7 linked regions of the Homo sapiens genome follow. The protein of the gene in region 7 purifies or fractionates together with the protein of the main gene of each other region. This does not show direct contact. Each region holds a gene or a part of one and is shown on either strand. Other genes may lie near its edges. The genes, in order: PPIG, PPP2R2D, SEPTIN7, PRCC, ZC3H14, TBL2 and SARNP.

Region 1 (2,778 bases), on a different chromosome or scaffold from region 7:
CTAATAATATCTACAGTTCTTTTCCTAATAACATTTCCCCAATTCTTTTTCTTATTTTTTAGGAGTGAGTTGAATGAAATAAAAGAAAATCAGAGAAGTCCAGTTAGAGTAAAAGAGAGAAAAATAACAGATCACAGGAATGTATCTGAGAGTCCAAACAGAAAAAATGAAAAGGAGAAGAAAGTTAAAGACCATAAATCTAACAGCAAAGAGAGAGACATCAGAAGAAATTCAGAAAAAGATGACAAGTATAAAAACAAAGTGAAGAAAAGGGCCAAATCTAAAAGTAGGAGTAAGAGCAAAGAGAAATCAAAGAGTAAAGAAAGAGATTCAAAACATAATAGAAATGAAGAAAAGAGGATGAGGTCAAGGAGTAAAGGAAGGGATCATGAAAATGTTAAAGAAAAAGAAAAGCAGTCTGATTCTAAAGGAAAAGATCAGGAAAGGAGTAGAAGTAAAGAGAAGTCTAAACAGTTAGAATCAAAGAGTAATGAGCATGATCACAGTAAAAGTAAGGAAAAGGATAGACGCGCACAATCCAGGAGTAGAGAATGTGATATAACTAAAGGTAAACACAGTTATAATAGCAGAACAAGAGAACGAAGCAGAAGTAGGGACAGAAGCAGAAGAGTGCGATCAAGAACCCATGACAGAGATCGCAGCAGAAGCAAGGAGTACCATAGATACAGAGAACAGGAATACAGGAGAAGAGGACGGTCACGAAGCCGAGAGAGAAGAACACCACCAGGAAGATCAAGAAGTAAAGATAGGAGGAGAAGGAGGAGAGACTCACGGAGCTCAGAGAGAGAAGAAAGTCAAAGCAGAAACAAAGACAAATACAGAAACCAAGAGAGTAAGAGCTCACACAGAAAAGAAAATTCTGAGAGTGAGAAAAGAATGTACTCTAAAAGTCGTGATCATAATAGCTCAAATAACAGCAGGGAAAAAAAGGCTGATAGAGATCAAAGTCCCTTCTCAAAAATAAAACAAAGCAGTCAGGACAATGAATTAAAGTCCTCCATGTTGAAAAATAAGGAGGATGAGAAGATCAGATCCTCAGTGGAAAAAGAAAACCAAAAATCAAAAGGTCAAGAAAATGACCATGTACATGAAAAAAATAAAAAATTTGATCATGAATCAAGCCCTGGAACAGATGAAGACAAAAGCGGATGAGTGAGTTATATAAACTTACTTCCATTCTGTTTCGGATTTTAAGTTTGAGAGACTTGCTAATGAATCTCCTTTATGTTGTTTTCCTTTTCATTGTTTTTGGATTGTTTTATGTTTGTCCTTTTTTTTCTTAATGTGGATTTCATTGAGTTGATTTTTTGATAATCTGCAATCTGGATAATTTGTACTGCTAAAGTTTTAATAAACTCGACATGAGAAAAACACTTTGGTGTAGTACTGTGTGCTGTGTTTAACTATTTTATGTATGCATTACTGTGTTGCAACAATTAGCCAATAGCATCCTAATTTGTTTAGTCAGCCATTTGGAATGGTTGCAATGCATTGTTGCAAAAGCTTGTGTTTCTCATGATTAAAGTAACTTTAGAAGCCACTAGAAGACATCTTGTATAGATTTTCTGATTGCGTTATAAATAGAGGTTTGCAGCGGTTTCTTTTAATTACACAGAAGCAGGGTCCTAATAACCTGAGATCTTAAATCATCACTTTTGATTTTATAGTAATTTGTGCTTTAAAATAGATGTATTTATATTGCACTTCATACTCTATTCTTTATAGTTCGAGCCATAGCTTGTTTCCTATTAATGCTTTTCCTGTCTAGTTGTGTTTTACTTAACTGCCTATAAAAATCGTAAGAGTAATTTTTTTCAGTTGATGTACTGATTGAGCTTGAGTTGCTGTTATACAGCATTTGACAGGAACTATACCTTGGAAAATCAGATTGTGATTCTCAGTTCTGTGTTGCTTTTGGTTTGAAGAGTTTTGGGAACGTTTTAATTATTAATTACCCTTCTCTAAACTTTAAAAAAAAAAAAGCTTTTCTCATTAAAACATACCATTTGTGCAGGTCCTTAAGCTATACAGATTCTAAAAATTGTTAGTATTGAGACATTAACTTCTAAGATTTCTCTTTTTTGGCCTCCAACCTATATAGAATTGAGTGTTAACTCTGCATGGATTTTGTTTGTTTTAATTGAACTGACTTCTCTAACTCTCATAGCTGTGAGTTCCAAATGGCAAGAAAATGCATCTTTTCTATATATGTATCACGATAGGCTATAGCATGTTTATGACTCTGGTTTCTTTCTCTTCAGGTGGTTTTATACCATTACTGTTAATGTTATTTTAACTTGGCATGTATAACATTGCCATATAGAGTAGAGTAGAAAGTTGCAAATTTTGATAGTTTACAGAGTTAAACACTAAACATATCCAAAGTCCATTTAGAGTTTTGGGTGTTGTATTTTGCCATTTTTGTGATGTGTGGCCTTTTATTCTGTAATCTCTTCTAAATAAAACATTGAACATCCAGCAAACATAAAACCTGCCTCATTTGAAAAGGAATTTCAAAATTCCAATTAATAGGATTCTCTAGAGAGTTTTGTACTTTAATATTTGTCAGTGTAGTGTCAACTCTGTTACCAAGGTAGCTTCTTGGTAAATCCAGTAGCTACTCAATGCTATTTGTACTGAATAAAGCAATTATTAACATGATACTTCCCACTATTGATTAATGCAATATTGATATATTTGGCGTTGTGGTAGCTGTTGCAGAATGAATAGTGTAATGACCATAAGATTGCTTGGAAA
Region 2 (3,500 bases), on a different chromosome or scaffold from region 7:
AGGCGGGCGGATCACGAGGTCAGGAGATCGAGACCATCCTGGCTAACAGGGTGAAACCCCGTCTCTACTAAAAAAAATACAAAAAATCAGCTGGGTGTGGTCGCGGGCACCTGTAGTCCCAGCTACTGGGGAGGCTGAGGCAGGAGAATGGCATGAACCCAGGAGGCGGAGCTTGCAGTGAGCGGAGATCACGCCACTGCACCTCCAGCCTGGGCAGCAGAGCGAGACTCCATATCAAAAAAAAAAAAAAAAGATTCACAGACTCATCATGCTTAGTACAGCCACATCTTAACGCTCAGGAGGCTGGCCTGGTCATCGTTACATCGTGAAGTTAAGTTTACAAGATATGTGGTGGTATTGAATCATACCTGGTGATTTTCCACGTTCCCTGATTTTAAGCAGTCTGCTGTTCTGATGGGAAGTTCCAGGTTGGGTTTGTGTCTGCTGTTTTCAACTCTGAGGGCCCCTTTCTGAGCTTCAGCTCGCTTATCTAGAAGTTAAATCAGAAGCTTTTTGTTAAGATCAAACAATGTGCAGTGCTGTTGCAACTTGAAAAGTGCTTTTCAAGTATTAGATACAACTGTTAATTCTCTTGTATTTTAAAGTATTGGGGCTTGGTTTTAGCTATATTTAAACACAAAAATAGCAGTTTCTTGTTTTTCCTTACCTGCTTCATGTCCATCTACCCAGATCCCTTCCACTGGGCCTGGCCTCTTAATGTTTACGTTATTATTCAGTGATTATTCCCATCCCTTGATCTTTGCTCCTGTTTCTTTCTTTGCCTAGAGTATTTATTTTGCTTCCTGTCCATTCCCTAAGCCCTGCTGATCCTTCTAAATCCACCTCCAATCCCACTTGGCGAGTCCCTGCTCCAGCTCCCCTCAGCGTTCAGTGTCGTCTTAGACTCCAGATTTCCCTTTCACACTGTGTTCCATGTTGTTTAGCAATTGGCTGTGTCCTGCTTGTGGTTCCCTTATTTTATCACATGTATTATTAGGCTCGTCTCTCCCACTGGATGTCAGTCAGCATATGGAATGTCATGATATTACCAGGTGATGGAGAGGAATTGTGCACGTGGAATTTGGTACACATCCCTTTTTCACCCTCTTCAGGCTTTGTGTTAACTTGGGAAGTTACTTACTCTTTTCTCATCTGTTAAACGGGTACTATTACTTGTGACCATTACAGGGTTGCTGTGAAGATTCCAGAAAATGTATGGAAAGCTCTGACAAACAAACACGTTAACTGGTAACTGTTCAGAGGCTGTTGTCTTAAGAGACCCTCTTGCATAGGAAAATAGCTGACTCTGTCACTTCAGGGAGCCAGTTTAAGAAAAATGAAGGGTAATGCAGGGGCCAGCTTTCAGCTTGGCACATCTGAAAAGTTCACGACAGCATACCAAAGGGCTGCTAGTGCTGGCTGTTGGAAATAGAAATGCAGTTCTTGCCTTCAGGAAACGCTGTTTGGACACAGACAAGCAGGTGGGTCCTTGCACCATGGCTGGACCAGAGCACACTGAGGCAATGTGAAGAAGTACCCAGTACACAGACTTGGGTAGGGAGTGGAGGGGAGGACATCAGGGTATAAGAAGAGGGAGGAAGGGAAGGGGAGGAGAATGTTCCAGGTGGAGAGTGCTTGGTGTGGAGGTTGGACAGAGCATGGTATGTTCTGAGAGGTCAGTGCTTGGCATGGTCCTCTGGCAGAAAAGGGAGTGGCTGTGATGAGCAGGAGGCTGGCTGGGGCCACAGGATGATGAATAAAGGACTTGAATCGTGTGCTCAGGACTCTGAGTGATTGTGAGCTTTTCAGATCCTAAGCGGAGGAGCGACATCAGCTTTGTTTTTAACAAGGTCACTCTGCCCTTTGGAGAGTGGATGGTGGTGGGTAAGAATGGAGATAGGAAGTTACTGCAATAATAAAGATTGGGAAAATGGGCTTACTCTAGTTTCGGGGTGGCCAAGCTTTTTTGTAAAGGGCCAAATGGTAAGTATCTTAGACTTTCAGGCCATCCTGTCCCTGTTGCAACGACTGAATTCAACTCTGCCTTTAGCAGGAAGACAGCCATAGACCCTGCAGAGATGGATGGGCGTGGCTCTGTGCCCTGCTTCCACAGGAGCATGCCTACAGAAAACAGGCAGCTGGCCAGATGTCGCCCAGGTTGTGGTTTGCTAAACCCTGACCTAGAGTTGGTTTGCAAAGTCTTTTGGTGCTGGAATAATTTTATACTCTTAATAGTTATATTGAGGATCCAGAGAGCCTTTGTTTGTGCTGGTTATCGCTGTTGATGTTTTCTATATTTGAAATTAAAACAGAACAACTTACAATATTTATTTTACTTTAAAAGAATCTACTACATGTTAACATAACCTTTTTAATGAGAAACAACTTTTCAAAAACAAAAAGATTAAGCAAGAAGAACAGTGTTGTTTTACACTTTTGCACATCCTTTTAAAATATGAGGTTTAAGAGGTGACGGCTGGATTCTCAGACCTGCTTCTGCATTCCGTGTGTTCCAGTTGCTTTATTGAAATGTGTAAGGAAAATGTGGCGTCACACTTCCATGTGGGCAGAAGAGGGGTCATCCTGGAGGCTCTTAGCGATGCACCATAACTCGCCAGGTGGCAGCGTGTTTGAGTGTGCCGGCCTTTCGGAGTCAGTGACGTTTCTGTACTCTCTTCCGTCAGAACCCTGAGGTCTGTCTTGTGCTCAGAGTGGGTCTTTTGCTCATGGACATGATTTGGTAACATCACACGGGGGTTGTTTGGAAATATTGTTACATGGAGTTGTTTTTTTTTCTAAATGTTAACACATTCCATTATGTAAACTTGAAGAAAATCCTATTTTTTAATGTCATCACTGATCTCATCAGAAGAAAAAGTGAGAAACTGTCAAATTAGCAGTAGTAGAGAAAAGTTTTCCAAAATTCTAATTTTCTCTTGAAAGCTTGGATTTTATCATTGGTAACAAATACTGTCAGTTACTTTCTGTGAAGTGAGGGACGCAGTGTGTTCATTTTCAAGTCAATTTCTGCCAGATACCAAATTCTTAATAACCAAAGTTGGTCAGTTGTTCTTTCAAATAAAAATGGCATTCCATGAAAAAAAGGGCTAGTTCAGCTTGTGTGATACTGTGGAATATGTATTTGGTCTTCCCTAGTACACAACTCCTAAAATCCTCGGGCTCGTCAGTGATGTCTTCGTAATGCGTTGGCTAAGGGCCGGCAACCCCTGGGTAGCTTCAGAACAGGGGCTGGTCACCAGAAAGACCTAGGCAGGATTAGAAGGTTGGGACTTTCAGCCCCGATCCCCAACCTCGGGGAGTGGTGAGGGGTGGGGGAGCTGAAGGTTAAGCTGATCACCAGTGGCCAAACAGTCTTGCCTATGTATGGACTGGGTTTGAAGATAGCTTCCAGATGTTTCTGGAGGGGGGCCCACCCAGAGAGGACACGGGAGCTCTGTGTCTCAGCCCCCGTCCCTCGCCCTGTGCATCACCTCAGTGTC
Region 3 (3,500 bases), on a different chromosome or scaffold from region 7:
TCGAACCTTATGTTAGGGGTTGGAGGTCTTGGTGTGAGGAAGGAAGACTTTAAAATTAAAGACTGTTAAGTCCGTGTGGCTTTTTCTTACTTTGGATTCATTTATCCTGTACTCCATGTAGCTCGCATGGTTAGAGAGATCTGAGGCCTACTCCTATTTGAGAGGATGTTATCCCCCATAGCCAGAAACCAGGGTGGCTTCCAAAAGAAAAGGGTAGCATTCGGTGACTCTGCTTTAGGCCTTGAGGATGAATCTTTTCTTTGTTTTTGTCTTCCTGTGTCCTTTTGCATCATCAGAGATCTGGAGACTAAGCTTTGAGCATGGGCTTGGGGAAGAGGGGCCAAAGAGGCAGCTTGGCTGGCATTAAGTGTTGAAGGCCGTAGACCAGACACACACTAAATCCTTGTGACTTACACTTGGTGCAGTCCAGCTATCCAGATGTAGGGATTACACATTGGGGTTTGAGTTCAAAATCTTAATAATGATTTAGAACATGGGCTTTGATGTTAGATATGGATGCAAATCTTGGCTTTGCTACTCAATAGATACACCAGTCAGAGTAGGTTAGATTGTAATTTTAAAAACTACAGTTAGGCGTTGTTAACAATACGGTACATTGAGAAATCATAGAGTATTTTACCTACACAAACCTAGATGGTAGAGCCTACTATACACCTGGGCTATATCCTATTGCTTCTAGGCTATGAGCTTGTATAGCTTGTTATTGTACTGACTACTGTAAACAATTATGACAAATGGTAAGCGTGTTTCTTTTTTTGTTTTTTTTTTTTTTTTTTGAGACGTAATTTCGCTCTTGCTGCCCATGCTGGAGTGCAATGGTGCAATCTTGGCTCACCGCAACCTCTGTCTGCCTCCTGGGTTCAAGCAGTTCTCCTGTCTCAGCCTCGCGAGTAGCTGGGATTACAGGTGCTTGCCTGCCTCAGCCTCCCAAGTAGCTGGGGTTACAGGCACTCGCCACCACGCCCAGCTAATTTTTGTATTTTTAGTAGAGACGGGGTTTCACCATGTTGGCCAGGCTGGTCTGGAACTCCTGACCTCAAGTGATCCTCCTGCCTCGGCCTCCCAAAGTGCTGGGATTATAGATGTGAGCCATCACGCCCGGCCAAGTGTTTGTGCTTCTAAGCATAGAAAAGATGATGTGCTGTACTATGAACTTGTGACTGCTATGACATCACAGGTGATATGAATTTTTTTAGCTCCATAGTAATCTTATGGGACTACTGTCATAAATGTCCATTGTTGACCAAACGTTGGACATACTGCATGACTATACTGCAAATAAAAAAAGTGGAAATGGAATAAGAAAGATAAACTATAAGCCCCAATTTTTTATTATTAGTTTCAATAGACATAAAATTATTCTGCTATTAAATTTTCCATTTTTGTGCTCTCAATTTGTGTTTCTCTGACATAAACTGATAATTCACAGACTGGCTCATTGGTCCACAGACCACACTTTGCATAGCACTAGGTTAAACTATGCTGCAGCAACAGACTGTCATGCTAAAGTTTATGTACAGTATTATGTTTTAGGCCAGTGTTAACTTTAAAAATACTATACTTTGAAAGCTGAGAATTAAGTATCCCCTGTGATTGGGGGGATAGCCTGAAGCTGCTCCTGCTTACGTTATTTTGAAGTTTTCTAAGTCTTAAGTATTCATGTGTCATTTGCATTTTATTCAATGTTTGTTTGCTTTATGTGAAATATAAAGATGATATTCTTCCTCCTTCCCCACTGATCTGGAAGTAAAAATGGACTTTCCTGAAGTTGTAACATCTTAATTCTGTTGTTTTGTTTAACTCTGGGACACAACTGACTACTTCTGGTAGCTTTATTGGAGGTGAGGCTCCAGGTCAGAGTTTCTCATTTGAGGTTTTGTAATTATTTGAGGGAGGGGAGGGCTGTCTTGAGCATTGTACAGTATTTACCAGCATCCCTGCTGTCATCGTGCTAAGATGCCAGCAGCACATGCTCTCTCTGGTTGTGAAATGAAAAAAATGTCTACAGACATTGCCAAATGTCACGTGGGGGAGCAGAATCATCCTTGGTTGAGAACCACTGCACTAGGTGATGGAGAGCCATTGAAGGATTGTGGGAGACGGGGAAGAAGGAACAAGCTTCCTTAACTGTCTTACTTTTTACTTCTTCCTGGAACTCCTACCACTTAATATTCTTAGTATTTCCTAAACTTGGGAATCAAAATTACCTAGATTTTTTTGTATTAAAAGTTTATCATTAATTGATATATTTTTGCAAAGCATGATCAGTAATTACTGGACATAGAACATTATGCTAGGTCATTATTTTCTAAAGTATGGTTGAAGGGTCAACCATGGCTTGGAGTTAAAAATGCAGATTAACTGGTTCCCACTACAAGACCCATTGATTAGCAATCTCTGGGAGAGGGACCCAGGAGTCTACATTTCCAAATGCTTTCCGACTTATCAAGTAACTTCATTATTGTATGCTTTCATAGAAAAAAATACGTGGATTTTAAGTATTTAGTTCAATGAATTGCTGATGTGCATACACACATCTTGTAGCCTTTATTCTAATCAAGATAGAGAATACTTCCACCATCCCAGAGTTTCTTGTGCCCTGTTGGAGTTCTCCTTCTACTGCCCCAGGTAACCACTGATAAGATTTCTAATAGCCATGAATTAGTTTTTTTGTTTTTGTTAGTTGACTCATTTAAAGTGTTTTTTCTGGGTAACTTTCTAAAGTCTCCCCATCCCTATAACTTCTTTATTATATAAGATTTCAAATAAAATGAACGTCATGGTGTTTTTCAAAGAATACAGATTCTCATAGTGTTTCACACTTTGATAAATGATAGGCCTGGGATGGGGCCCTGAAAATCTTTGGCTCTGATTGACTGTTTTCAGGAAAATCAAAACTATTTTCCACCAGTTTTGCTGTGCTTTATAAAATATATTTGAAATATTCCTGCAGTGGTAATTTGAAACTTTTGTAAACTTTGTTCATTGATTTAACAAGTATTTGACTCCAGGAAGTATCAGACACTTTGACACCATAGCAATCAAGAAAGCTGTGGTCATGGATGTTATGATGTTTCTGTTTTCATTTCTGAAATTGCTTTTTTAAAACTTTTTTTTTTTTTTTGAAACGGAGTTTCGCTCTTGTTGCCCAGGCTGGAGTGCAATGGCACAGTCTCAGCCACCGCAGCCTCCGCCTCCCCGGTTCAAGTGATTCTCCTGCCTCAGCCTCCCGAGTAGCTGGGATTACAGGCATGTGCCACCATGCCCGGCTGAATTTTTTTTTTTTTTTTTTTTTTTTTTTTTAGATGGAGTCTCTCTGTGTCGCCCAGGCTGGAGTGCAGTGGCGCGATCTCGGCTCGCTGTAAGAAGGTCTGCCTCCCGGGTTCACACCATTCTCCTGCCTCAGCCTCCTGAATAGCTGGGACTACAGGCGCCCGCCACCGCGCCCGGCTAATTTTTGTATTTTTAGTAGAGACGGG
Region 4 (3,500 bases), on a different chromosome or scaffold from region 7:
ATCTAGAAAAGTCAAATTCATAGAGATGGAAAGTGGAATAGCAGTTACCAGGGGCTGGGGGGAGGTGGGGATAAAGAGTTACTGTTTAATGGGTGCGGAGTTTCTTTCTTTTTTTGAGTCACCTTTTTTTTTTTTTTTTTTTTTTTTTTTTTTTTTTTTGAGACAGAGTCTCTCTGTGTTGCCCAGGCTGGAGTGCAGTGGCTCAATCTTGGCTCACTGCAACCTCCGCCTCCCGGGTTCAAGCAATTCTCCTGCCTCAGCCTCCTGAGTAGCTGGGATTAAGGCGCCCGCCACTACACCCAGCTAATTTTTGTATCTTTAGTAGAGACGGGGTTTCACCATATTGGTCAGGCTGGTCTCGAACCCCTGACCTCGTGATCCGCCCGTCTCGGGCTCCCAAAGTGCTGGGATTACAGGCATGAGCCACTGTGCCCAGCCCTTTTTCTTTTCTTTTTTCTTTTTTTTTCAATGAAACAGGGTCTCAGTCTGTTGCCCAGGCTGGAATGTTGTGTCTCGATTATGGCTTACTGCAGCCTCTACCTCCTGGGCTCAAGCAACCCTGCTGCCTCAGTCTCCGCAGTAGCTGGGACTACAGTAATGTGCCACTGTACCTGGCTATGTTTTTAAACAATTTTTTTGCTGGGCATGGTGGCTCACGCCTGTAAACCCCGCACTTTGGGAGGCCGAGGCTGGTGGATCACGAGGTCAATAGTTCAAGACCAGCCTGGCCAAGATGGTGAAACCCCATCTCTACTAAAAATATAAAAATTAGCTGGGCGTGGTGGCGCATACCTGTAATCCCAGCTACTTGGGAAGCTGAGGCAGAGAATTGCTTGAACCCGGAAGGCAGAGGTTGCAGTGAGCCAAGATCGTGCCACTGCCCTCCAGCCTGGGTGACAGAGCAAGACTCTGTCTCAAAAAAAAAAAAAAAAGGCCGGGTGCAGTGGCTCATGCCTGTAATCCCAGCACTTTGGGAGGCTGAGGTGGGCGGATCACGAGGTCAGGAGATCGAGAGCATCCTGGCTAACACGGTGAAACCCCATCTCTACTAAAAATACAAAAAATTAGCCAAGCGTGGTGGCGGGTGCCTGTAGTCCCAGCTACTCGGGAGGCTGAGGCAGGAGAATGGTGTGAACCCGGGAGGTGGAGCTTGCAGTGAGCCGAGATTGCGCCACTGCACTCCAGCCTGGGCTGCAGAGGGAGGCTCCATCTCAAAAAAAAAATTGTTTTTGTGTGGAGATGGGGGTCTTACTATGTTATCTGGGCTGGCCTCAGACCCCTGGGCTCAAGTGATCCTCCTGCCTCATTTTTCTTTCTTTTGTTTTTTTTTTTTGGAGACAGGGTCCTGCTCTGTTGCCCAGCCTGGAGTGTAGTGGCACAATCTTAGCTTACTTCAGCCTTGGCCTCCTTGGCTCAAGCAATCCTCCTACCTCAGCCTTCTGAGTAGCTGGGATTACAGGCACATGGCCGATTTAAAATTTTTTTTTTTTTTTTGAGACAGAGTCTCGCTCTGTCGCCCAGGCTGGAGTGCAGTGGTGCAATCTCAGCTCACTGCAACCGCCGCCTCCCGGGTTCAAGTGATTCTCCTGCCTCAGCCTCCCGAGTAGCTGGGACTACCGGCACCCGCCACCACCCCCGGCTAATTTTTGTATTTTTAGTAGAGATGGGGTTTCACCATATTGGCCAGGCTGGTCTCGAACTCCTGATCTTGTGATCTGCCCACCTCGGCCTCCCAAAGTGCTGGGATCACAGGCGTGAGCCACCGCACCCGGCTAATTTTTAAAATTTTTTGGTAGAGATGAGGTCTCTCTACAGTGCCCAGACTTGTCTCAAAACTCCTGGGCTCAAGCAGTCCTCCCATCTGGGCCTCCCCAAATGCTGGGATTATAGGGGTGAACCACTGTGCCTGGCCATCCCCGCCTTGCCTCATTTTTGAAGTTGTCATTTTAGTGTTCTGTTTCAGGGAGTCTGTCATTTATGGTGTGTCATGAGATGATTCATAATAGGGGTCGGTAGAAGTTTTATATAAGATGTTCGGGCTGGGTGTGCAGTGGCTCATGCCTGCAATCCCAACACTTTGGGAGGCCAAGGCAGGTGGATTGCTTGAGGACAGGAATTTGAGATCAGCCTGCGCAACAGAGTGAGACCCTGCCTTTTATCTCTACAAAAAAATTTTAAAAATAAAATAACTGAGCATGGTGGGCAAGTGCCTGTAGTCCCAGCTACCTGGGAGGCTGAGGCAGGAAGATTGCTTGAGCCCAGGAGTTTGAGGTTACAGTGAGCTGTAATTGCGCCACTCTACTCCAGCCTGGGCACAACAGAGCAAGACCATGTCTCAAGGGAAAAAGATGTTCAAAGAGAAGAATGATTGTGAGTAGCCATAGCAATCCTCTAAATCTAGAAATAATAGACTGTTCCGAAGTCTTTATAGAGGTTTTTTTTTTGTGTGTGTGCTTTTAAACTATAAACTCAGGTTGTCAGTATAATGGAAACAATTTGTGACATTTACAGAGAAATTGAATTTTCTTTCCACAGTGGATCTGGCCTTCAATTCTATTAGCTGTGGAGCAGTTTGCCTATTACAGTCTTACAGTAGCCACTTTTTGTTTTTCAAAGGATCTGAAAAATAAGAATATGCTTGTATAGTTTTATAAATGTAATCATCTTAAATTTGGGTAAAATTTGTTTATTTCAGATTATTGCCATTGGACCTGTTGCCTATGATGTCAAAGTTTAAACGTATTTGGGGAATCCATGAAAACCTTATATACCCCATAGTGAGGTTGTTCTGTGTGGTCTGCCAGAAAGGAGATAAGTCTTCATGGTCAAAAGACGAGAGATGGTGAGGAGTCTGTAAGGAGCAATGAGAGTTAGTTTAGAACAGAAAGAAAAGGTAGAAAATGCTTAGGTGCCAGGTGCTTAAGTCTTTTCTTGGGTGAGTTTGATATCTTGGCAAACCAGAGAAAATAATAATTTTTGAACTTTGTTTAGAATTTTAGTTTGTATCATTTTCACTGGCAGTAGCTCCTGTGGTTGTGACATGGGTAAGTACTATTTGCACCTTAGGCTTGGGGAAGTTAAATAGCGGGATCCCTTAGCCAGTGAGGGGCAGAGCTGAGACTCAAACCAGTGCTTCTGATTTTGTGCTTCATGCTCTCTCAGCTGTGTCGTGTGGGATCTAGTGAGTGTGAATCTCAGACCTGGACAGCAGACAGCTCAGTTTGGTGTTCCCGCAAAAGCACGGGCACTGGAACTGGTTCTGATCCTGGTTCTGCCCCATCCTATTTTATCTCTCTGAGCCTTACTTTCTTCACCATAAAGTTGAGATAATAATAATGCCTACTTTGAAGTGTTATTATAAGAATTAAATGAAAAATGAGTAAATTGCCTGATACATAGGAAGCACTTGGTGGATGGTTGTCCTTTCCTTTGCCACCCTTTTCCTTTATCCCCCACATTTAGATACTAAGATGGATTTCCCTTACGGGTTAAAAAAAAAA
Region 5 (3,500 bases), on a different chromosome or scaffold from region 7:
TGAGGATGAGGGCTGGAGGATAATGATGTAGCTGAGAATAGACAGACGAAATACTTTATTAGGCTTCTCAGGCTAGGAACTACCAGTTACCGTGAAAGGTGATGATGTAGCAGAAGTGAGCAAGTGGCCTGCCGAATTTGAGTGCAAGAGGAGGCACTGAGTGGGGAGATGAGCCTGGTTAAGTTCTTGCCTTTATACCAAAGGTCGTCTTCAAGGTGTTTTTGCCCAAGTAGGCAACTGTATGCTTATCAACCGTCTTGAAATTCTGCACAGAATTCTCTGGGTTTATACATTGCACAAATTTGAAGAACATTGTATAGTGGTCATCAGTTGTTATGATACACTGCTGCCTCACTGTGGGTGACCCAACCCATTTGTTACAATTTGTCCCCAGAGGTTATTCCCTCCCAGCCCCCCACAAAAAAAGACTGTGGGTCTTTTGACTGGGAAAATTACCATTATTGTGAGTACTATTTTTTTTTCTAAAGCGACCGAGTAGATCCTTTTCTCCGATAACTTGATAGAATACTTAGATTTTTAAAACAGACTACCAAATGAATTTAAAACCAAATTAATTCAACATTCTCATCTGGCCATAAATTGAGTTCTTTAACATGTAGTGAAGCAAAGGGTGATGTCCCCATTTTGGCACTTTGCTTTCTTAAGTTAGTGTTCATTAACACCAGCCCCAAACAGACTATTGTGATTATTTGGAGCCTTGAAGTAATTGTGTCCGTGGGGACAGTAGCATGTGACTAGGGTTCTCATTGAAACATGAGGTTTCTGGCATATTTTGAGAGGTACTGGGAAGGGATGTAAGGCAAAGTACCTCATTTATAACTACCAAAACAGGTTATGTTACAAGCAAGATTACAGCCTTACAGCATCAGTTTTGAAAGTAATAGAGTGAAATGATATAGCATAGTTTGAGATTATAACTTGTTTTAACCTCTCAGAATTAAGTTGTCCAAGACACCATCTAGTTTAAGCAGTTAATATAAGCTGCTTAAATGGTGGTAATAATAAGCAATATTACATGTTTATGATACTTGTTTTACTGTAAGCTACAGTAAATCTTTAGTACTTACAAACAGGGTGACATATTTTGTAGACTAAGACTGGTCAGATGATATTCTTTCCCATATTTTTGCAGAGGCTAGATGTTGAAAACAGTGAAGAAAAAAATACAATTTTTTATTGACTTCTGTAGGATTTATACAAAGCCCTTTTTTAAAAATGTGAAGTTTGAAAGTTCATACCATTTATTCACTAAATACAGTTTATCAGTATTTATCTCAGCTAGGTGCGGTGGCTCACGCCCGTAATCTCAACACTTTGGGAGGCTGAGGCAGGTGGTTCTCTCAAGTCCAGGACTTCAAGACCAGCCTGGACAACACAGTGAAACCCCATCTCTATTTAAAAATAATAAAAATATAAAAAAATTTAAAAAATTATCTCTGAATATAATGTCATAAATTTAGAGTGACAGTTGAAATGAAATCTTTCTTAACAGAAGGTTTATTTTTGTTTTTTGTTTTTTTCCTCAGGCTTCATGGTGTATTAGATAAACTTCGCTCTGTTACAACTGGTAAGATTCATAACTTTTTTTTTTAATTTCTGCTTGCTATGGCATATGATTTGTTTCTTTCTAAAGTCATAGTGCTTTGGGAAAAACCCATCAATTTCAAAACGGTTCATTTGAACTTTTTTAGAAAGCACATACTTTTATGAACTTAAGAGCAGTAAATTTAACATAATTCAAAGATAATTTAAGTGTGGGAGAGGGAGCAGTGCACTTTATCCGAAGGAAATAATTACATATATGTGCAAAGATTTAGCCTCAAGGATATTTCAGTATTTTATAATTGAAAACAATTTAAAAGTTCAGTCATAATAAACGAAATTGTTGTATTACCATGTGTGGAATAATATTTAACTATTAAAAATAATGTTGTGGAAGAATAACAGAATATACACGCATAAGATACATGTTTTAAAAAATGTGTATATATGCTCTTCCCCCGAAAAATCACCTTTGAGATAATTGGTGATTTTTATTATATTTTTAAAATTTTCTACAATAAACATACTGCTTTTGAATTGGTGATGAGGAAGGAAACGACTTAAAGTAATAAAAATAGATGGCCGGGCACGGTGGCTCACGCCTGTAATCCCAGCATTTTGGGAGGCCAAGGTGGGCGGATCATGGGCTCAGGAGATGGAGACCATCTTGGCCAACCAACATGGTGAATCTCCGTCTCTACTAAAAATACAAAAATTAGCCAGGCATCGTGGCACATGCCTGTAATCCCAGCTACTTGGGAGGCCGGGGCAGGAGAATCGCTTGAACCAGGGATTTGGAGGTTGCAGGGAGCCGAGAACGCGCCACTGCCCTCCAGCCTGGCGACAGAGCGAGACTCCATCTCAAAAATAAATAAATAAATAAAAATAAGAAATAAAAATAGATTAAAAGGACTGTATTTTTCTTTTCAGAACCCTCTAGTCTGAAGTCTTCTGATACCAACATCTTTGATAGTAACGTGCCTTCAAACAAGAGCAATTTCAGTCGGGGAGATGAGAGGAGGCATGAAGCTGCAGTGCCACCACTTGCCATTCCTAGCGCGAGACCTGAAAAAAGAGATTCCAGAGTTTCTACAAGTTCGCAGGAGTCAAAAACCACAAATGTCAGGTAAGAGTCTGGTGTAGACCTGCTGGGGGCAGATGGCTCTGTGTATGTGACATTTATATTAGTTTTTATATCTTTCAGTTTGCTGTTCTCAGCAATTTTTAGAAACAATGAAGTGATCGTGAGTAGTTTTTTGAATAAAATAATGGATAAGATCTAAGTATGATTATCTTTTATCACAAATTTAGTAAATCAAAGTTGAAAGAAAGTGCAATTTCAAAGCAGTTTTGAATGGAATATGTAAAGGGAGTATCCTCAGTTTTTTCATTGAAATTTTTCAAGTAAACATTCTTTAAAGATTTGGTGATAATTGCCCTAATTTGGCTGTAATACATTTTGTTGTTCTTTTAAATAGACAGACTTACGATGATGGAGCTGCAACCCGACTAATGTCAACAGTGAAACCTTTGAGGGAGCCAGCACCCTCTGAAGATGTGATTGATATTAAGCCAGAACCAGATGATCTCATTGACGAAGACCTCAACTTTGTGCAGGAGAATCCCTTATCTCAGAAAAAACCTACAGTGACACTTACATATGGTTCTTCTCGCCCTTCTATTGAAATTTATCGACCACCTGCAAGTAGAAATGCAGATAGTGGTGTTCATTTAAACAGGTTGCAATTTCAACAGCAGCAGAATAGTATTCATGCTGCCAAGCAGCTTGATATGCAGAGTAGTTGGGTATATGAAACAGGACGTTTGTGTGAACCAGAGGTGCTTAACAGCTTAGAAGAAACGTATAGTCCGTTCTTTAGAAACAACTCGGAGAAAATGAGTATGGAGGTTTGTATGTACTTTTAAATTCTGGCTTA
Region 6 (3,500 bases), on a different chromosome or scaffold from region 7:
GGCTCACGCCTGTAATCCTAGCACTTTGGGAGGCCGAGGCGGGTGGATCACAAGGTCAGGAGATTGAGACCATTCTGGCTAATGTGGTGAAACCCCACATCTACTAAAAATACAAAAAAAAATTAGCCGGGCATGGTGGCGGGCGCCTGTAGTCCCAGCTACTTGGGAGGCTGAGGCAGGAGAATGGCGTGAACCCGGGAGGCAGAGCTTGCAGTGAGCTGAGATCACGCCACTGCACTCCAGCCTGGGTGACAGAGCGAGACTCCATCTGAAAAAAAAAAAAAAAATTAGCTGGATATGGTGGTGCACGCCCATGATCCCAGCTACTTGGAAGGCTGAGGCACAAGAATTGCTTGAACCTGGGAGGCAGAGGCTACAGTGAGCGGAGATCACGCCACTGCACTCCAGCCTGGGCGACAGAGCAAGACTCTGTCTCCAAAAAAAAGAAAGAAAGAAAAGAAAAAAAAAACCAAGGTCCAGAGCAATTCACTAACTTACCCAAAGCAGGGCCGCTAGAGATGGTTGTGCACATTACTCCCTACATAGGGATGTCTGGCCAAGGATCCACACTCCACTGGCCGTGCTGTGTACCCGCCCAGCAGCATCACCCAACCCAGAGAGTGCGCCTTTTCCACTCTACATGAAGGTGCTCTGTGGACTTACTGTAAACAGCCTCCTCAGTAGTCAGTCAGTAGTAGAGACAGAATCCAAACCCAGGTCTGATTCCAAAGCCTCTGTTTTGTTTCTGTTTTCTGTTTGTTTTTTTTTGAGACAGGGTCTTGCTCTGTCACTCAGGATGGAATGCAGTAGTGTTGTGATCATAGCTTACTGCAGCCTCGAACTCCTGGGCTCAAATGATCCAAAGCATTGGGATTACAGGCATGAGCCACCATACCCAGCCAGCCAAAGCCTCTGTTTTTGCCCATATCACACTCATTCTCCTCCAGAAGACAAGGGCCATATCTGGTTAATCTCCTGCTGTTCCACTCAATGCCTGGCTCATCATAGGTGGGCAGTAAATGCTTATCAGTGAGTAACTGGAGAACAACATGGCCCTTCCTTATAGGCCAAAAAGCAAATGGATTTCCACCTGACAAATCTTCGGGATCCAAGAAGCAGAAACAATATCAGCGGATTCGGAAGGAGAAGCCTCAACAACACAACTTCACCCACCGCCTCCTGGCTGCAGCTCTGAAGGTACGTGGGGTACCTGGCACAGCGTGCACCCTGAGACTCAGCCCCACAGGCTTTTCCTCTGGAGTATTCCATGCATGTTACAGGCTCTCCTGCCTCTGATCAGAATCAGCGGGGGTGCTTAATTCTGTCCCCTCTCATCGCAGCCCAATCTCAGCTTGCTGTTAATCCAGGCCACAGGGCCCCATCTCCCCGGCTCCAGGTTTGGCTTCCCCATCTCCCCCAGGAGCTCCTATTGACACTTCCTGCCACCCTTCCCCTAGAGCCACAGCGGGAACATATCTTGCATGGACTTTAGCAGCAATGGCAAATACCTGGCTACCTGTGCAGATGATCGCACCATCCGCATCTGGAGCACCAAGGACTTCCTGCAGCGAGAGCACCGCAGCATGAGAGCCAACGTGGAGCTGGACCACGCCACCCTGGTGCGCTTCAGCCCTGACTGCAGGTGGGACAAGACGGAGCCTCAGGTTTGCCTGCAGAGGCCTAGTCCCAGGCTTTGGCCTTCCCATATCTGCTTTGAGGTAGTGAGGAGGGACCTGGACCCAGGGCCTCCCTTGGGGTGCCAGAAAGAGCATCCACATAGTTTGCGCGCTGCCTGGGGCTCCCTGGAGATCTGGGCTGCTATACAGCAAGGAAACAGGGGGAGGTCTCTTCCTACCTGGAAATACCTTGGCCTGGCTTCCAGATGAGCCTTAGTTTCTAAACCCTAGAGAGAAACTAAAGGAGCCAAAGCTATCAGAATCTTACCTTTTGAGGAGTTTTATGAGATTTGGAACCAGGGGCTTAAGTTTTAAGGCTAGACTGTGGGGCATGAGGAGAGATCTTGACTTCCCCGAGAACCCAGCACAGGACCTGGAACACAGAGCCTCTTTGTCCAGTGAGAGCGTGACTTGTCTGCTGCCTGTCTCTAGAGCCTTCATCGTCTGGCTGGCCAACGGGGACACCCTCCGTGTCTTCAAGATGACCAAGCGGGAGGATGGGGGCTACACCTTCACAGCCACCCCAGAGGACTTCCCTAAAAAGCACAAGGCGCCTGTCATCGACATTGGCATTGCTAACACAGGTAAGAGGCATTCAGAGGGTGGCGCCTGCCCAAAGCATGAAGGAAAGATCCAGTTCTATTTCCTCAATGAGTTAATGCTGCCTGAAAGTTCTGCTCAACCTGAGAGGAACAAGGGGTCCCTGGCTCTGAACAGCCTGGCTCTGTGCTCCCCTGGAGTCCCTGGGCCACACCAGGTCCCTAGGGAAGGTGGGGAAGGGCCACAGTCTTCAGCAGAGTCCTTATCTGTAGTGACCCTTGGCCTGGGAGGAGACATGTATACTTCGGGCAGCAGAGGCCTTGTAAGTGTCTTTGGAGAGTGACAGTTGGTCAGGTCACTGCCCGTGACCCACATCACTCCCTTCCCGCTCAGGGAAGTTTATCATGACTGCCTCCAGTGACACCACTGTCCTCATCTGGAGCCTGAAGGGTCAAGTGCTGTCTACCATCAACACCAACCAGATGAACAACACACACGCTGCTGTATCTCCCTGTGGCAGGTGGGCAAGGAGGGGTATTGGCGTCTGGGACCACGAGAGGCTGGGGCTGGGGAGCAGGCACAGAACAGAGAGCCAGCTTCATCGCGTGGGAAGAGCATACGGGGTGGGGTCAGGAACCCGAGCTTCAAGTCTCAGCTCTCCCCACTTGCAGTAGTGGGATTTCATGCAGGTCGCCCCATGTCCTTAGTCGCTATTTCTTCATCTTCAGTGTTTTTGTTTTTTAGAAAATTAGTCTCACTCTGTCACCCAGGCTGGAGCACAGTGGTGCGATCATAGCTCACTGCAGCCTCAAACTCCTGGGTTGTAGCTATTCTCCCAGCTCAGCCTCCTGAGTAGTCAGGACTATAGGCATGTGCCACTGTACTCAGCTAATTTTTGTTTTTTGTTTGTTTGTTTGTTGAGACGGTTTCACCCTCGCCCAGGCAGGAGTGCAGTGGCGCAATCACAGCTCACTGTAGCCTTGACTTCCCAGGCTCAGACCATCCTCCCACCTTAGCCTCCCGAGTAGCTGGGACTACAGGCGTGCACTACCACACCTGGCTAATTTTTGTATTTTTTGTTGAGATGGGGTCTTACTATGTTGCCCAGGCTGGTCCTGAACTCCTGGCCTCAAGTGATCCTCTTGCCTCGACCTCCCAAAGTGGTAGAATTACAGGCGTGAGCCACTGTGCCAAGCCACCTTTGGGCGGGGATGTTACATATCTTAGAACAAGGCTAGAAGATAAACTGAGGTCACATACATAAAAGAACTTTTTTGTTGTGGT
Region 7 (3,500 bases):
GAGAGACTGGTTTATTTTGGAGTTCTGATGTTCTTCTTTTGATAGATATTTATTCTTTAGATTTATGTTAACCACCTTGTTTCATTTGGTTTTAGGAAGAAGAAACAAAGCCCATTGAGCTCCCTGTCAAAGAGGAAGAACCCCCTGAAAAAACTGTTGATGTGTAATTATCCCTTTTTTATAATCTGAGTACAGAGCAGGCAGCTCTTTTCTTAATGTATTTAATGTTTAACTTTGTTTACCTCTTACATGTTCCCATTGGCCTTTTCCTTTCTGATTAGGTCATTTTTTTGTTTTTTAGAAGGGACTACTTCAAAGTACTTGGTCCCAGTGAAGTAAAGCAAATTGTCTCTGAGTTATGTAATAGGTAATGAGGACCAGGTGACTTCAAGACCAGACATAGTTTAATTCTCCTAGCCTTTGTTGTTCTTTTGTAGGGTCACCATAATAGATTATTCTGTTACTCTATAGAGAATCTGTACAATTCTGTATGCAGTGTAAAACTGTGTAAACTCTGTTAACTTTTTTTTTTTTGAGACAGGATCTCACTCTGTTGCCCAGACTGGAGTGCAGTGGCGTGATCTTGGCTCACCGTAACTTCTGCTTCCCAGGCTCAAGCAATTCTCCTGCCTCAGCCTCCCGAGTAGCTGGGATTATAGGTGTGTGCCACTACTGCCCGACTGATTTTTGTATTTTTAGTAGAGACAGGGTTTTACCATGTTGGCCAGGCTGGTTTTGAACTCCTGACCTCAAATGATCCGTCTGCCTTGGCGTCCCAAAGTGCTGGGATTACAGGTGTGAGCCACCGTGCCCGGCCCATTCTGTTAACTGTTCATAAGAGTTTTGCACTTTTCTGGAAAAGTGTAAAACTGAGGCCAGGCACGGTGGCACACACTTGTAATCCCAGCACTTTGGGAGGCCGAGGTGGGTGGATTACGAGGTCAGGAGTTCAAGACCAGCCTGGCCAAGATGGTGAAACCCTGTCTCTTCTAAAAATACAAAAATTAGTTGGGCGTGGTGGAGGGCACCTGTAATTCCAGCTACTTGGGAGGCTGAGGCAGGAGAATTGCTTGAACCTGGGAGGTGGAGGTTGCAGTGAGCCGAGACTGTGGCACTGCACTCCAGCCTGGGAGCCACAGCTGTCTCGGGAAAAAAAAAAAAAAAAGTGTGACACTCTATATAAAGGAGTTTTGTAAGGGAGGAGGGTGTTGGGTAGAGGTTATGTTTCTGAAGTAGCACTCTGTTCTCTCTTGCTTTCTGATTTACAGTGGAGGATGGGAGGACAAAGTGCTAGAATGGAAAGTAGATCTTGATTTGTTTAAACTGTTCCACAAGGGTGATCCTAAACATCTTTAATTTGGGGCTTTTTCCACAAATGTCTGGCCATTTTGTACTATAGTACATTAAGAGCCGTTGAGTCCTAAACTTTGAACATTTTTGTTCCTCATAGTTGTGTTAGTGCATTTAATTATAAAAGGCAGTGTATTTACAAGTAAAAAGTCAGTACATAGTGGAGTATATCAATTAAGAATTAAGTACTCTTTGTATCCATTCTCAGATCTGACTTTACTGAGGTTTTTAGAACAGTACATACTTTTGGAAGATTTTATATATGGGGTCTGTACATGTGTATATGTATGTATGTGTATATATAGATACACGTATACACACACTGTGCACACTTGATTTTTTTTCACATCTGGAAATTTTTTATATCATCATTTTCTTATGTAAGTGTTAGTTATATGCTAGGCATTGTTCTTAAGAGTTATATGCTAGGCATTGTTCTGAATGTTTTACATGTACTGTCATTTTATCCTCAGTAGACCCTGTAAAGTCAGGATAATTATCCTAGGAAGTGGTCTCTTTTTGTTTAGCTTATTATGGGAAATTACAAGTATATACAAAAGTTCGACTAGTGTAATAGACTCTCATCTACCTATCACCCAGATTTACTAGTTATCAACTTAGAACCTTGTTCTTTCTAGCATTTAATAGTATTGCATTCTATGGATAAACAGTAATTTATTTCACCAGTCTTCTGTTGATGGACATTTAGATTATTCATTAAAAAAAAATGTAGTTCTGCATGTCCTTTTCTAATTATTTATACTCACAAGTATACCCACAGGGTAAATTCCTAGCAGTGGATTTGCTGCATCACAGAGGATGTACATTTAACATCTTGATAGATTTTTGTCAAATATCCCTTTATTTATTTATTTTTGAGACAGGGACTCACTCCGTTGTCCAGGCTGGAGTGCAGTGGCACAATCTTGGCTCACTGCAACCTCCGTTTCCCGGCTCAAGCAGTCCTCCAGCTTCAGCCTCCTGAGTAGCTGGAACTACAGGCACGAGCCACTACACCCAGCTCTTTTTTTGTATTTTTTGTAGAGATGGGGTTTCGCCGTGTTTGCCAGGCTGGTCTCAAACTCTTGAGCTCAAAGCGATCCACCTGCCTTGGCCTCCCAAAGTGCTGGGATTACAGGTGTGAGCCAGTAATCACCTGCCTATCAAATACTACTTTCCAGCCTATCAAATACTACTTTCTAAAGCCATTTAGTTATCTTTCCATCATAAGATGTTTATAATTAGATATAGTGCCTTGAAAAAATGACTTTGTGAGATAGCTTTAAAATAGAAATGTTATGGGGATTTCTGGAACAAGAAAGAAGATCAAGTGAATACCATGATAATTGGCTTCTGTGGGTTAAAAAATAGAGGTTCGAAAGTTTGAAGTTCATTATTCATAGAATATTTAAAATGTGCATTCTGTTCAGGGGGCTTTAATTCTATTAATGAATTTTGAAACAAGGAAATTGAAGTGGGTGGGGTGATCGTTTTTGATTTTTAGAGGATAGTTGTGGTTAGACTGAAGTATGTACAAAAAGATTCTGGGTCTCTGTATTTCAGGGAATGTTGTTTATGTGATTGGGTAGGAGAGAAATTTCTCAGTGAAGAGTGGAAATTTCCCATGCATCCCAGAATTCGATGTTTATTTATTGCGCTTGAGTTTAGTTGCCTAAGGGAATTGTAATAGAATGGAAGGAAACTTCCCGTCTGGGGTTCCCTTTCTGCCATGATGTGCACTGCATTGACTGTGCTTCAGAATGGTAATGGGGAGGAAGTCATTACACTGGGGTTGATGGAGAGTACTACTTTCTTGATGGCATTGGATTTCAAGTAAAACATTAAACTTTAGCCTTTTGTGCCTAAATTATAAGACAAGGTTAGGGAAGGATGGCAAGGAAATGGGAAGCGTTTAGAAATTTCTTTAAACGTCAGAATAGCCAGGGCTAGTTTAGATTCCTTGACTATTTAAAAGGAGATCCCCTTCTTCATGTTTGGCCTGAAGTTCTCCAAAAATATACCTGTTTCTAGTTTGATTCCCAACCCCCAACCAGCTAAAGCGGTTACATATCGTAGGACTTCGTTATAGTCAGCAGGGGGCACCCATTGCTTGTCTTCAGTCCAGGGATTTCCAATAAAAGGGTGGAAGA

Evidence for each region.
Region 1: the proteins of SARNP (region 7) and PPIG purify together in Homo sapiens (affinity purification with mass spectrometry; 2 studies listed by BioGRID and IntAct, with this or other methods). This does not show direct contact.
Region 2: the proteins of SARNP (region 7) and PPP2R2D purify together in Homo sapiens (affinity purification with mass spectrometry; 2 studies listed by BioGRID and IntAct, with this or other methods). This does not show direct contact.
Region 3: the proteins of SARNP (region 7) and SEPTIN7 purify together in Homo sapiens (affinity purification with mass spectrometry, with the first as the bait; one large-scale study listed by BioGRID). This does not show direct contact.
Region 4: the proteins of SARNP (region 7) and PRCC purify together in Homo sapiens (affinity purification with mass spectrometry, with the first as the bait; one large-scale study listed by BioGRID). This does not show direct contact.
Region 5: the proteins of SARNP (region 7) and ZC3H14 purify together in Homo sapiens (affinity purification with mass spectrometry; 2 studies listed by BioGRID and IntAct, with this or other methods). This does not show direct contact.
Region 6: the proteins of SARNP (region 7) and TBL2 fractionate together in Homo sapiens (co-fractionation; one large-scale study listed by BioGRID). This does not show direct contact.

The regions. Positions count from the first base shown.
Region 1 is NC_000002.12:169,636,351-169,639,128, forward strand, and holds part of PPIG (peptidyl-prolyl cis-trans isomerase G), read left to right. Parts: intron 1-62; coding exon 63-1,173; 3' UTR 1,174-2,778. UniProt on the Homo sapiens protein: PPIase that catalyzes the cis-trans isomerization of proline imidic peptide bonds in oligopeptides and may therefore assist protein folding. May be implicated in the folding, transport, and assembly of proteins.
Region 2 is NC_000010.11:131,907,508-131,911,007, forward strand, and holds part of PPP2R2D (serine/threonine-protein phosphatase 2A 55 kDa regulatory subunit B delta isoform), read left to right. Parts: intron 1-3,500. UniProt on the Homo sapiens protein: Substrate-recognition subunit of protein phosphatase 2A (PP2A) that plays a key role in cell cycle by controlling mitosis entry and exit. Involved in chromosome clustering during late mitosis by mediating dephosphorylation of MKI67.
Region 3 is NC_000007.14:35,804,057-35,807,556, forward strand, and holds part of SEPTIN7 (septin-7), read left to right. Parts: intron 1-3,500.
Region 4 is NC_000001.11:156,774,035-156,777,534, forward strand, and holds part of PRCC (proline-rich protein PRCC), read left to right. Parts: intron 1-3,500. UniProt on the Homo sapiens protein: May regulate cell cycle progression through interaction with MAD2L2.
Region 5 is NC_000014.9:88,569,537-88,573,036, forward strand, and holds part of ZC3H14 (zinc finger CCCH domain-containing protein 14), read left to right. Parts: intron 1-1,547; coding exon 1,548-1,588; intron 1,589-2,493; coding exon 2,494-2,689; intron 2,690-3,041; coding exon 3,042-3,471; intron 3,472-3,500. UniProt on the Homo sapiens protein: RNA-binding protein involved in the biogenesis of circular RNAs (circRNAs), which are produced by back-splicing circularization of pre-mRNAs.
Region 6 is NC_000007.14:73,572,080-73,575,579, reverse strand, and holds part of TBL2 (transducin beta-like protein 2), read left to right. Parts: intron 1-1,066; coding exon 1,067-1,197; intron 1,198-1,457; coding exon 1,458-1,642; intron 1,643-2,108; coding exon 2,109-2,260; intron 2,261-2,609; coding exon 2,610-2,736; intron 2,737-3,500.
Region 7 is NC_000012.12:55,797,225-55,800,724, reverse strand, and holds part of SARNP (SAP domain-containing ribonucleoprotein), read left to right. Parts: intron 1-95; coding exon 96-163; intron 164-3,500. UniProt on the Homo sapiens protein: Binds both single-stranded and double-stranded DNA with higher affinity for the single-stranded form. Specifically binds to scaffold/matrix attachment region DNA. Also binds single-stranded RNA. Enhances RNA unwinding activity of DDX39A.